Linked DNA regions of Homo sapiens: region 2 is linked to region 1. The links come from fine-mapping of genetic effects on gene expression. Tissue or cell type: whole blood. Region 1 holds a variant in brackets; the other region holds the start of a gene. All regions are shown on one strand. Distances are between the middles of the regions.

Region 1 (2,500 bases):
TATTTTTAGTAGAGATGGGGTTTCTCCATGTTGATTAGGCTGGTCTGGAACTCCCAACCTCAGGTGATCCGCCTGCCTCGGCATCCCAAAGTGCTGGGATTACAGGTGTGAGCCACCACACCCGGCCAAAACAAGGACCTTTGTAAGGACTCTTTTTATTCAGCAAGATACTGAGTGGGAGTGTCCTCCTGCTGCAGGGAAGGATGAGTTCTCTCAGGAGGTTCAGAATGGTTTAGGGAGGAAAGTTCAGACTCATAGAACACCTTATACTCTCTGTATAAGCTTGGAGGGTATAATACCATTTATGTCAAGCTGTTTATAATAATGTGTTTCTAGACGTAGTATTCATATTTCAGCTTTTACTTGCTTCTGTGTAATGATTTTCTTATTTGAGTCTGACCACCCTGAATGAATGTGTATCTCTTTTTTTTTTTTTTTTTTTTTTGAGACGAAGTCTCGCTCTGTCCCCCAGGCTGGAGTGCAGTGGCGCAGTCTCACCTCACTGCAAACTCCACCTCCTAGGTTCACGCCATTCTCCTGCCTCAGCCTCCCGAGTAGCTGGGACTACAGGTGCCCGCCACCACGCCTGGCTAATTTTTTGTATTTTTAGTAGAGACGGGGTTTCACCGTGTTAGCCAGGATGGTCTCAGTCTCCTGACCTCATGATCTACCCACCTTGGCCTCCCAAAGTGCTGGGATTACAGGCGTGAGCCACTGTGCCTGGCCCTGAATGTGTATCATTTTTACGAAAATAATAAAGCTTAACACCTGAGTCTGAACTTTCCTCCCTAAACCATTTCTTTTTTTTTTTTTTTTGAGACGGAGTTTCATTCTTGTCGCCCAGGCTGGAGTGCAATGGCGTGATCTCAGCTCACTGCAACCTTCGCCTCCGAGGTTCAAGCAATTCTCCTGCCTCAGCCTCCCAAGTAGCTGGGATTACAGGCGCCTGCCACCCTGCCCAGCTAATTTTTTTGTATTTTTAGTAGAGACAGGTTTTCACCA[T/C]GTTGGCCAGGATGGTCTCAAACTCCTGACCTCAGGTGATCTGCCCGCCTTGGCCTCCCAAAGTGCTGGGATTACAGGCATGAGCTACCACACTTGGTCTCCTTAAACCATTTCTATGACTTAAGAATTAAGGTCCGGGCCGGGCGCGGTGGCTTACGCCTGTAATACCATCACTTTGGGAGGCCGAGGCAGGTGGATCATGAGGTCAGGCGTTCGAGACCAACCTGGCCAATATAGTGAAACCCCGTCTCTACTAAAAATACAAAAAATTAGCTGGGTGTAGTGGCGGGTGCCTGTAATCCCAGCTACTTGGGAGGCTGAGGCAGGAGAATTGGTTGAACCTGGGAGGTGGAGGTTGCAGTGAGCTGAGATCGCGCCACTGCACTCCGGCCGAGGTGACAGTGAGAGACTCCGTCTCAAAAAAATAAAAAGAATTAAGGTCCAAATCCGGAATCAAAGGTAAGAGTGAAGATAATTTATTTAATAATTATGAGAACCAGATGCCCTCCCCCCCCCCGCTTTTTTTTTTTTAAAAACTCTGTCACCCAGACTGGAGTGCAGTGGTACAATCACACCTCACTGCAGCCTCGACCTTCTGGGCTCAAGTGATCCTCTCACCTCAGCCTCTCAAGTAGCTGGCACTACAGGCGCATAGTATGCCTAACTAATATTTTAGAATTTTTTTTATAGAGACAGAGTCTCACTATGTTGCCCAAGCCGGTCTTGAACTCTTGGGCTCAAGCAATCCTCCTGCCTTGGCCTCCCAAAGTGCTAGGATTGCAGGCGTAAGCCACCATGCTCAGCCCAGAATGGGGCCATTTTTAATAGATTATTAGAAGAAAACCTGTCATAAGGCAGGATTTGTGGGTCTAGATACAGGATAGGGGCACTGGAAGGTTGCTTTACAGGGATTGTAGCGATTAGGGTTTTCCTGTCAGTCCTCTGCCCCTTTGCTCAGATGCTGACAGTGAAACCGTGAAGGCAGCAAAGGTGTGGAAACTCGCAGAGGTCCTGGTGGGTGAGCAGCAGCAGTGCCAGGATGCCAAGAGCCAGCAGAAGGAGCAGATGTTGCTGCTGGAGAAGAAGAGTGCTGCTTACTCCCAGGTTTATCAGGGCATGGGACAGCCCCTTTCCTTTATCCTGACCCCAGGAGCACTTTTGGGGAAGACAAAGATTCCTGATCTACCCTCCTTTCTACTATCTTTATTTATGCCCTCTTCTTCCTCCATCTTGGGCTCAGGTGCTTCTCCGCTGCCTCACTTTGCTGCAGAGGCTTCTTCAAGAACACCGGCTGAAGACTCAATCCGAGCTAGACCGCATCAATGCCCAGTACCTGGAAGTCAAGTGCGGTGCTATGATCCTTAAGCTGAGGTGAGCTGTGACCCCTGTGGATCTTAAGGGATTCTGTCTCACGTTATCAGCCCTCTATCCCTTACCCTAATCTCTTTCCTCTCCCTTATCCTAGCGCCTTGTGGGTATCCAGTAAATGTCACATAGC
Region 2 (3,017 bases), 86 kb before region 1:
AAGACCATCCTGGCTAACAAGCGGATCACCTGAGGTCAAGAGTTTGAGACCAGCGTGGCCAATATGGTGAAACCCCATCTCTACTAAAAATACAAAAATTAGCCAGGCGTGAGGCCGGGCACGGTGGCTCATGCCTGTAATCCCAGCACTTTGGGAGGCCGAGGTGGGTGGATCACGAGGTCAGGAGATCAAGACCATCCTGGCTAACACGGTGAAACCCCGTCTCTACTAAACACACACACACACACACACACACACACACACACACACACACACACAAATTAGCCTGTTGTGGAGGCAGGCGCCTGTAATCCCAGCTACTCGGGAGGCTGAGGCAGGAGAATCGCTTGAACCTGGGAAGCAGAGGTTGCAGTGAGCAGAGATCGTGCCACTGTGTTCCAGCCTGGGGGACACAGCAAGACTTGGTCTCAAAAAACAAACAAACAAACAAACAAAAACAATACAGCATATGCAGAGTCTGCTGGGGGAAAGATGGGGCCGAACTGGGCATCAGAGGAAAGTGGAATTTCGGTGTTGATAGATGTTGCTGCTAGAATCCAACAAGGAAGGCCAGAGACTGACTTCATAGAACCATAAAGCAGGAGGCAACATTTCATACATATGCACACTTCCCGGTTTGTTATAGTTCCCAAAAGATTTGAAAAATGAAGGTGGGTGGAGGGAGGAAGAGGCAATGAAATATAGTATGTTCCTGAATAAAAGGCATCATCTTAGCAAGTTGAAGTTAGAGAATCTCTTGGTACATATTTATGCAGTCTCAACCGTCCTCCCGTCTCTGAGATGGTAAATTACTACTGACACTTATTCAGGTCTGAACTGAGAATCTAGTTTGTGGATTAACTGGACCCTTTGCTTTTTCTTCTTCCATCTGCCTTTTAGGCAATTCATTACTTATTCGAATTTCCACCAGAAGGTAGGAGTCAAGAGAACGAATATTGGATATTAATAACCGGTTACTGTTAAAGAAGGGTTGCTGTATGGCGACTGACAACAAGAGGTATAGCACTTTTATTTTGTTGCGTTGTTTTACCACTAATTGCTGTGGTTTAACTAATATAGGGAAATGGCCTCAGAATGGATCATTATTTTACCCAATTTTAGAAGGTGCCCTTAAACAAGATGGCAACCTCAGGCGCGTTAACAAGGTGCTGAAGCAGCAGCGATGTAACCTGTTGCTTGGACACCAGGCTGGAGTGGGAGGACTCACCGCTAAGGGTTCAGAACCGATTTTCAACCAGTCACGCCCTTCTCAAAGATGGCCGACCTCACTTCCCTTACGCAACATGGACGTTTTCAGTCACTTCCTGTGATTTTGAGGTTATTCTGATCCAGGACTACTTGCATGACCAAAGCCAAGATGGCAGGTACGTCCTTTTAGAATTTAAGGTTAGTGAAGCCATCTATTTCCCCGACCCCCTTCAGTGAAAATGGTCTTTCGCATCTGGCTCTTCTTTTTGGAGGCGTGCTTGCCAGCAGTCAAAATGGCTCCATTCCGGAATAGATTTAATAGGAAGTGAAGCTGTGACGGCGAGGCGTTGCCCGGCCTATCTTTGCTAGGCGTTCTCAGAATTAGTTCTTTCTGCCCACACTAGACATGGCGCTTGCCAGCGTGTTGGAGAGACCGCTACCGGTGAACCAGCGCGGGTTTTTCGGACTTGGGGGTCGTGCAGATCTGCTGGATCTAGGTCCAGGGAGTCTCAGTGATGGTCTGAGCCTGGCCGCGCCAGGCTGGGGTGTCCCAGAAGAGCCAGGAATCGAAATGCTTCATGGAACAACCACCCTGGCCTTCAAGGTGTGGAGCCAGCCCCCTTGCCAGGCTGAGTACTGAACGCCCGCGACTTGCCTGGCCTCCCAGCCTGACCGGAGTTTGCGGTGGCCTTGGCCACCAACCCAGGCGGAGGCTGGGTCCTCTCGTTCGGACCGCAGCAGTTTTGCTGTCTCATTGGCCCAGGAGGCCCCTGTCTTTGCTCTGGTTGGAAAGGGTGGCGGTGGGGCCGGGGGTAAGTCGGGGGAGGAAGGTGAGGCCTCTTGGGTTGATTCCTAGGCGACCCCAGGTTGCTGCTGTTCAGGATCTTCTAGCTGGGAAAGGCCGCAACAACAATGAATCTTGGCCGAGGGAAGGCTATTGTAAACGTTTACCAAAGTTTTGGAAACTGGGCGGCCCCTCAAGGCAGGGGTAACTGAAACTGGCATGAAGGGGAAGCGTGGTGAGGGTAAGCATTGTACTAAGAATCAGACATTTGGGGTTCCTTGCCCAGCTCTGCAATAACTAGCTCTAGATTGAGAAATCATTTGATTTCATTGAACCTGTTTCCTCATCTATAAAATGATTTGTTTTTTTTTTTTTTTTGAAACAGGGCTTTTCGCTGTCGCTCAGGCTGGAGTGCAGTGGCTCCAGCGCCTCAGCCTCCAGAGTAGCTGACACTATAGGCACACACCACCACGACAGGCTAAGTTTTTTTACTTTTTGTAGAGATGGATCTCCCTGTGTTGCCCAGGCTGGTCTCCAGCACCTGGCCTCAAGCGGTCCTCCCGCCTTGGTCTCCCAAAATGCCTGGGTTACAGGAGTGAGCCACCACGCCCATCCTATAAAATGAATTTAATATGGGTTATATCCATGTCAAGGGATTGATGTGAAGCTCGGGTGACATTAATATATGGTGAAGTATAGAAGTATACTGTGAAGTATAAAAGGACGGAGAAAGAGATGTGCTGGGTTTGGATTGATGCAAAAAGAAGTATGTAGGAGTGTTTTTGTGGTCTTATGTGGCCTGTTTTGTGTTTTCCTCTGATCTTAACAGTTCCGCCATGGAGTCATAGTTGCAGCTGACTCCAGGGCTACAGCGGGTGCTTACATTGCCTCCCAGACGGTGAAGAAGGTGATAGAGATCAACCCATACCTGCTAGGCACCATGGCTGGGGGCGCAGCGGATTGCAGCTTCTGGGAACGGCTGTTGGCTCGGCAATGTCGAATCTATGAGCTTCGAAATAAGGAA

What was found. PIP is the estimated chance that this variant, and not a neighbour inherited with it, causes the effect. A credible set is the group of variants that fine-mapping cannot tell apart.
Region 2: PSMB5 starts here. The variant in region 1 is the best candidate, but not a certain one, in a credible set for the expression of PSMB5 in whole blood (TOPMed, PIP 0.56).

Annotation. Positions count from the first base shown.
Region 1 is chr14:22,947,474-22,949,973 of GRCh38, reverse strand. It overlaps HAUS4 (HAUS augmin like complex subunit 4), which reads left to right. Exons shown (of 10, transcript NM_001166269.2): 7 at 1,961-2,106; 8 at 2,243-2,373. All of the region lies in intron 2 of PRMT5-DT (PRMT5 divergent transcript), which reads right to left. Among named protein-coding and RNA genes, the nearest start is that of MIR4707, 8.3 kb to the left of the region's middle. The variant T/C (reference allele first, on the strand shown) is at 1,003.
Region 2 is chr14:23,033,480-23,036,496 of GRCh38, reverse strand. It overlaps PSMB5 (proteasome 20S subunit beta 5), which reads left to right and starts at 1,597. Exons shown (of 3, transcript NM_002797.5): 1 at 1,597-1,813; 2 at 2,823-3,017. The coding sequence starts at 1,616. RefSeq lists enhancers at 1,123-1,417, 1,202-1,871, 672-1,871.